2 linked regions of the Homo sapiens genome follow. The protein of the gene in region 1 purifies or fractionates together with the protein of each later gene. This does not show direct contact. Each region holds a gene or a part of one and is shown on either strand. Other genes may lie near its edges.

What was found.
Region 2: the proteins of AMPD3 (region 1) and LRBA fractionate together in Homo sapiens (co-fractionation; one large-scale study listed by BioGRID). This does not show direct contact.

What each region holds. Positions count from the first base shown.
Region 1 is NC_000011.10:10,479,085-10,482,903, reverse strand, and holds part of AMPD3 (AMP deaminase 3), read right to left. Parts: intron 842-3,819; coding exon 679-841; intron 1-678. UniProt on the Homo sapiens protein: AMP deaminase plays a critical role in energy metabolism.
Region 2 is NC_000004.12:151,005,061-151,008,879, reverse strand, and holds part of LRBA (lipopolysaccharide-responsive and beige-like anchor protein), read left to right. Parts: intron 1-3,819. UniProt on the Homo sapiens protein: Involved in coupling signal transduction and vesicle trafficking to enable polarized secretion and/or membrane deposition of immune effector molecules. Involved in phagophore growth during mitophagy by regulating ATG9A trafficking to mitochondria.

The sequences.
Region 1 (3,819 bases):
CCTACTCCCACCCCGATCCACCCTACCACCAATTTGGCATTTACTGTGTGATTGTGTTCTTTTAAATATGCCACATGAGGCCAGGCGCAGTGACTCACATCTATAATCCCAGCACTTTGGGAGGCCAAGGCAGGAGGATCACTTGAGCCCAGGAGTTTAAGACCAGCCTGGGCAACATGGTAAGACCCCCATCTCTACAAAACATAATAATATATATTTTTTTAATTAGCTGGGTGTGGCGGTGTGTGCCTTTGATCCCAGCTACTTGAGAGGCTGAGGTGGTAGGATTGCTTGAGCCCAGGAGATTGAGGCTGCAGTGAGCCATGATTGCACCACTGCATGCCAGCCTGAGCAACAGAGCAAGACCCATCTCAAAAAAAAAGAAAAAAAAAATTCCCACATGAGACTCCCTGTCTCCCTGGTGGACTCCCAAGAACAAGGACTGTCTTTCACATCTCTGTCTTGACTTCAACAGTTCAGCTCTGCACAGGCTAGGCATACAGTACACATAGAATCAATCCTTGGGGGAACCATCAAACATCAGTGTGGGAGAAGCCAATGAAAGAACATTGTCATTTTAAAATACTATCAGGGGAAATAGACCGAGCCAGAAAAAAGCCCTGACTAGCTCTCGGTCTGCCCACACTTGGGACCCAACCTCCAGCCAGAGCTCCATACCTGGAAGGCCCTCTTCCGGAGGTGCAGTATCCGCCCGCGGATGACCCAGGTACTGGGATGTGATCCGCGGGAAGCGGTGGTAGGCGAGCCGCGCATACTTCTCCCGGATCATTAGGGCCTTGGCCAGACTCTTGGCTGCCTGCTCATAGTCCTCCAAAGTGATCTGCAGAAGGGAGGCAGGCAGGAAAGGGTTCATGCAGCAGGCCTGAGACTGCCATCCTTGGAAAGATGTGCTTGCAAGATTGGCCCTTGCCTGGTATCTGGGAACCTAGATTTCAGGAGGGTTCTCACCACTCCTTGACCAATAAGAGTGGTTCATTGCACCTAAACTACTTGTACAAACAATATGGTTTATGTTGGACACCTGCTTTCCTTCTGGAGCCTGGAATTTGAGATGTGCTATGCAGACATGTGACCAGCCCCAGTGAAAACCCTGGGCACCGAATCTCTAATGAGCTTCCCTGGTAAACAACACTTCCCACATGTGCTGTCACAATGTGATGCTGGAGGTATTTGGTATGTTCTGATGACTCTGCTGGGAGAGGACCTTGGAAGCTTGCACCTCGTATCCTCCATGTATCGCTCCCTTTGCTGATTTGCTCTGTATCCTTTCACTGTAATAAATCAAAGCTGTAAGTACAGCTATATGCTGAGTCCTGTGAGTCCTCCTGGTGAATCATCCAACCTGGAGTGGTCTTGGAGACCCCCAACACAGGAGACACAGGAGGAGTTAGGGTCGTTGGAAGACAGACAAGTGCTCCAGCCTGCACACCCAGAAGCCGGCCTCACATGCAGCTAATTAAGCCAAAAGTCTGTTTTTGTACCAGGCCCATGGAGGGACAAAGCCTGAGTCCTATCCCTGAAGGCGATGAGCACCGTCATTTTCAGTTGAGAAAATTCATGTGTCCTTCAGATGGCGAAACAAAACAAGAAGCAAAAGCAAATTCTGCATGCTCAGCCTGCTTCTTTGCCAACCCCACACTTCTGATTAACTCTGTTAATCACCCAACTCATCCAGGCAACAAGCCCCATTGTCATGTGTTATGTGCCAGACCTTTCCATAGATTTCATTTTGCTCCTTACAGCAACCCATTTTGCAAATGGGAAAACTGAGGCCCAGAGAGGATAAATCACTTGCCAGGAAGCTACAGAGTCAAATTTCAGACTCTAACCTGATTGAGTCCCAAAGTCTAAGGATGTTCTGCTTTACCAGAGCAGCCTCATATTCAAAGATGAATGAGATAAATTCCCGCCTTCCAACAGGCTCATTAATCTTAGTCTGTTTGGGAAGGATGGGAATCGCAGAAATATGCTTGGGGAGACAAGTGGCCAGACAGACACAATGCAGGGTAAGGGGAACAGCAGAGGGAGGCACCATATGCTGGCATAGCCCAGAGTGGGGAGGGCTGGGGCCTGAAAGTGATCTCCTCTGCTTTAATAAAATCATCATTTTTAATTTTGTAATATTTTAAACATACAGACAGGCACCAAAGATAATATAACCTACCTTCTAGAGCTGACAATAATATTTAGCATAATTCTTTCAAATTTCTCACAGGTTTAAAGAAATAAATCATCACAGATACAGCTAAAACTCTACTCTCCTCCCTACCCCATCCTCAGAGGGAAGAAGTCTGAATATATTTTTCCTATGCATGTTTTTATACTTTTACTAAATACTACTAAGAAGTAGTATTTAGTAAATACTAAATACAAAAAGCAAGACTTTTTGTTACGATGGTAGATTCTCCTTTCCTGCCTCCAAATGTCCCCATAAGGTATGTTAATTCCTTTTACATCTTCCAGTGGATGGCTTCTGAGAGCGGCAGGAATAGGTGAGCAGACACCGACATCCTAGACAAAAATATGTCCCTGCCAACAACGAAGCCAAATTCTTTCTCTGGGGAACCAATGGACTCAGCATGACAAGGGGCTCATGCCATGGCTAAGGACATCAGAGAGGATGCTCAGGACCCCTGTGGACCCGTGGCCACCGGCCAAGCTTACAGGCATCACAGGCCCCATGGCTGACAGCAGACCTACTGCGTGCCAAGGAGATCTGCAAGATCAGCCTGCCTCTCACAGACACTTAGCTTTCTGAGGACCAGTTGCCCAGTTCAGGTGCTCCATGCACTACTCTGTGCCAGCCAGGAGACTGGGAGAAAGAAGCTATTATATGCTACAGGCTGACATCCTCCCATTCAGCTGGTGGCCGACCCACCTCGACTCTTGCTTTCCAATGCCCTGCCCACCTGCCTCAGGTTGGGTGAACACCAAAGACTCATGGTCAGGATGCTGATCTCCAGACAAGGCCTGCATTGTTTCCAACCCAACCTAAACTCCCATCCATGGGAACTTAATTAAAATAAGCTATGATATATCCTCATAAAGGAATACTATGTACATATTTTTTAAAAGGACAAAGAAGTTCTTTATATATTGATATGGCATTATCTTTAAGATGTATTGTTAAGTGGAAAATGCAAGATGCAGTATAATGTATATTGTAAACTACCATTTTTGTAAAAATAAGTAAATAAACTATGTATGCATAAATAATTGTAGGTACATAGACCATATATGTGAGAATACATAAGAAACTAAAACCAGTGGTTGCCTCTGAGGAGGAGAATGGGTGGCTGAATAATTGATACCATTTTTGTATCTTTTAAATTTTGTACCATCTGCAAGTGTTCTCCATTACACATAACCAAAAAAATTTTTGAAAGCTAGGGGAAATTTTATAGGAAGAGCAATAAGCTGCATTGCTTTCTCAGATTCACCATATTTTCTACAGCTACTGTTAAAAAGAGACTAATGAAGCCAACTGAGGCGTTAAGTAGTGAGTTGGGGCCAGGGAGATGGAGCCAAACTTAACCCTGGCACTAACTCAGTGATATTTCTCTCCAAGAAGCAGACATGCATAAAAAATGCATCATCCAATCAGGTGAAATTAGCACATTTTCAGTGACTGCGTTAATTGACTTAGTGTAAACCAATTTGCTCAATTTCTAAACAAGATTCTCTCTTCCTGGTTGAAGGGATCTAGCCTATATTTAAGGGTATTGAACCTACATATAAGAAGAGATGATTTAGCAACAACTAATTTCACACAAACCACTCAGTACCATGGCTTTGAAT
Region 2 (3,819 bases), on another chromosome or scaffold:
TATCTCAGCCTCCTGAGTAACTGGTATTACAGGGATGCACCAGCAAGCCCGGCTAATTTTTGTATTTTTGGTAGAGATGGCGTTTCACCACGTTGGCTAGACTGTTCTTGAACTCCTGACCTCGTGATCCGCCTGCCTCAGCCTCCCAAAGTGCTCGGATTACAGGCGTGAGCCACTGCGCCCAGCCTAGAGGTGGCTTTTTTAAACCTTCATTGAGATATGCAGTTGACTCTTGAATAACATGAGTTTGAACTGCATGGGTCCATTTATATGGTGATTTTTTTTTTCAACCAAACTCGAATTGAAAATACAGTATTCCTGGGATGTGAAACTGTTGCATACTAAGGGCTTACTTTTTATATCACTGGGTTCCACAGGGCCATTGCAGGACTTATCTGAGTATGCTCAGATTTTGGTCTATGCAGGAGTCCTGGAACCAATGTCCCCAGTATAGCAAGGGACAACTGTATTTTACATGCCATAAAAACCACTAATTTTAGGCTGGGTGCGGTGGCTCATGCCTGTAATCACAGCACTTTGAGAGGCTGAGGCAGGTGGATCACCTGAGGTCTGGAGTTTGAGACCAGCCTGACCAACATGGATAAACCTGGTCTCTACTAAAAATACAAAAATTAGCCAGGTGTGGTGGCGCATGCCTGTAATCCCAGCTGCTTGGGAGGCTGAGGCAGGAGAATTGCTTGAACCCGGGAGGCGGAGGTTGTAGTGAGCAGAAATCACACCACTGCACTCCAGCCTGGGCAACAAGAATGAAACTCTGTCTCAAAAAGAAAAAAAAAAAAGAAAAAAACTTCTCATTTTAAGTATACAAGTCAATGATTTTTAGTAAATTTAAAGAGTTTTGCACCTATTACCACAATCTAATTTTAAAGCATTTACATCCTGTGTTCATTACTTTATAGTTTTAGCTGCTAAATTTAGGCCTATGATTCATTTTAAGTCAATTTTTGTATGGTGTGAGATAAGGGTAAGGGAAAGGTCTACATTCTTTTTTTTTTTTTTTTTGAGATGGAGTCTTGCTCTGTGGCCCAAGCTGGAGTGCAGTGGTGCGATCTCGGCTCACTGCAAGCTCCGCCTCTTTGGTTCATGCCATTCTCCTGCCTCAGCCTCCCAAGGAGCTGGGACTACAGGCGCCCGCCACCACGCCTGGCTAATTTTTTGTATTTTTAGTAGACACGTGGTTTCACCGTGTTAGCCAGGATGGTCTCGATCTCCTGACCTCGTGATCCGCCTATCTCGGCCTCTCAAAGTGCAGGGATTACAGATGTGAGACACCGCGCCCGGCCTACATTCATTATTTTGTATGTGGATATCCAATTGTTAAGAGTGCCATTTTTTTTTTTGTTTTTTTTTTTTTGAGACAGAGTCTCGCTCTGTCGCCCAGGCTGGAGTGCAGTGGCGCGATCTCCGCTCACTGAAAGCTCCGCCTCCCGGGTTCACACTATTCTCCTGCCTCAGCCTCCCAAGTAGCTGGGACTATAGGTGCCTGCCACCAGGCCTGGCTAGTTTTATTTTGTATTTTTTAGTAGAGACAGGGTTTCACTGTGTTTGCCAGGATGGTCTCCATCTCCTGACCTTGTGGTCCGTCCGCCTCGGCCTCCCAAGGTGCTGGGATTACAGGCGTGAGCCACTGCACCCGGCTAGAGTGCCATTTGTTGAAAGGCTATTCTTTTCCCATTGAATTACCTTGGCACTTTTGTCAAAAATCAGTTGAGCATAAATGTAAGGATTTATCTGGACTCAATTCTTTTCCATTTATCTATGTGTCTATTCTTAAACCAGTACCAAATTGCCTTTTGTTTACTGAAGATTTGTGGCGAGTTTTAAAATAGGGAAGACCTCTTTATTCTTCCTTTTCAAGACAGTTTTGGCTATTCTGGGCCCTTTGCATTTCCATGTGAATTTTAGGATCAGCGTATCAATTTTTGTAAAAAAGCAAGCTGGGATTTTACTAGCTATCATGAGTAGATATTATTGGTTATATATTAATATTAATGATAATTACAAGAAATTTGGGTGAATTGGTGAAATTTTAAAACTTCAAAGTTTCCTGGAAGTGACAGACTTGATAATTTAGGTTCCTGCAAGCATACAGTTTTGTTGACCTTTGAATTGATTTATTTTAAACTGAGAAATCATTTGGGAACTGGAAAATCAGATTTTTTTTTCCTGTTTGTGAATTAATAGAAAAACTAAGTAAGCTTTTTATTTCTCATACTGACCTAGTTGAACTAATCTATTATATTCACTTTTTATAAAGCATCCCTTTTCACACACATATTCTTGAAAATATTTTAAAATAGTTTTTATATGGTTGAAACAGAAATGTCCACAATGCATTTTTGTTTTATAATACTTATATAGATGTACAATAAGGTATTTTATTTATCTTTGTATCTCCAGAACTTTTTGAAGTGTTTTGATACTTCAAAAGTGTTAAATGGAAATGTCTTAATTTTTAAAATAAAAGTACAATCTTTAGGAAGCCTAGTTCCTATTATTCTTTTATTTTTATTTTATTTAATTTTATTTTTTTGAGACGGAGTCTCCCTCTGTCACCCATACTGCAGTGTAGTGGCGTGATCTCAGCTCACGGCAGCCTCCGCCTCTGGGTTCAAGTGATTCTCCTGCCTCAGCTTCCCGAGTAGCTGACCACCACTCCCTGCTAATTTTTGTATTTTTAGTAGAGACGGGGTTTCGCCATATTGGCCAGGCTGGTCCCGAACTCCTGACCTTAGGTGATCCGCCTGCCTTGGCCTCCTGCAGTGCTGAGATTACAGGTGTGAGCCACCATGCCCTGCCCTATTATTCTTTTCCGCAAAAGATATATTGTTAAAACCTTGATGCATATTTCCTTTATTATTTTGTTTCCTATGAAGTTATTTGTTAGGCAGTTTGTATTTTTCATTGTACAATTTTGAATTACTTTAGTCTGTTTTACCCTTAAGAGAACAGTGTTGCCGGGCATGGTGGCTCACGTCTGTAAGTCTGTAATCCCAGTGCTTTGGGAGGCCGAGGTGGGTGGGATCACCTGAGGTCGGGAGTTGGAGACCAGCCTGGCCAACATGTTCTCTACTAAAAAATACAAAATTAGCCAGGCGTGGTGGCGGGCACCTGTAGTCCCAGTTACTAGGGAGGCTGAGGTAGGAGAATTGCTTGAACCTGGGAGGTGGAGGTTGGTGTGAGCTGAGATTGCACCACTGTGCTCCAGCTTGGGTGACAGAATGAGATTACGTCTCCAAAAAAAAAAAAAAAAAAAGCCTGGGTAACAGAGCAAGACTCTGTCTCCAAAAAAAAAAAGAACAGTGTCATTATTTTCAAAAGTCTCTTATAATCTACTCTGTATAGTTTTCTAGTATTCATTCATTAGCTCTCATCTAATGTGGTATATACAGGGTTTTTTTTTTTTTTTTTTTTTTTTTTTGAGTTGGAGTCTTGTACTGTTGTCTGGGCTGAAGTGCAATAGTGCGATCTTGGCTCACTGCAACCTCCGCCTCCCGGGTTCAAGGGATTCTCCTGTCTCAGCCTCACTGGGATTACAGGCGCCTGCCACCACCCCTGGCTAATTTTTTGTATTTGTAGTAGAGACAGGCTTTCACTATGTTGGCCAGGCTGGTCTTGAACTCTTGACCTCATGATCCGCCCACCTTGACCTCCCAAAGTGCTGGATTACAGGCGTGAGCCACCGTGCCCGGCCATTACAGGGTGTTTTATAATCTTGGATTCTGAACTAAATTTTTGTGGGATTTTATTTGTGGGAATCCTGTGTAGATTAGTTTGTGTAAGTTTAACATCTTTCTT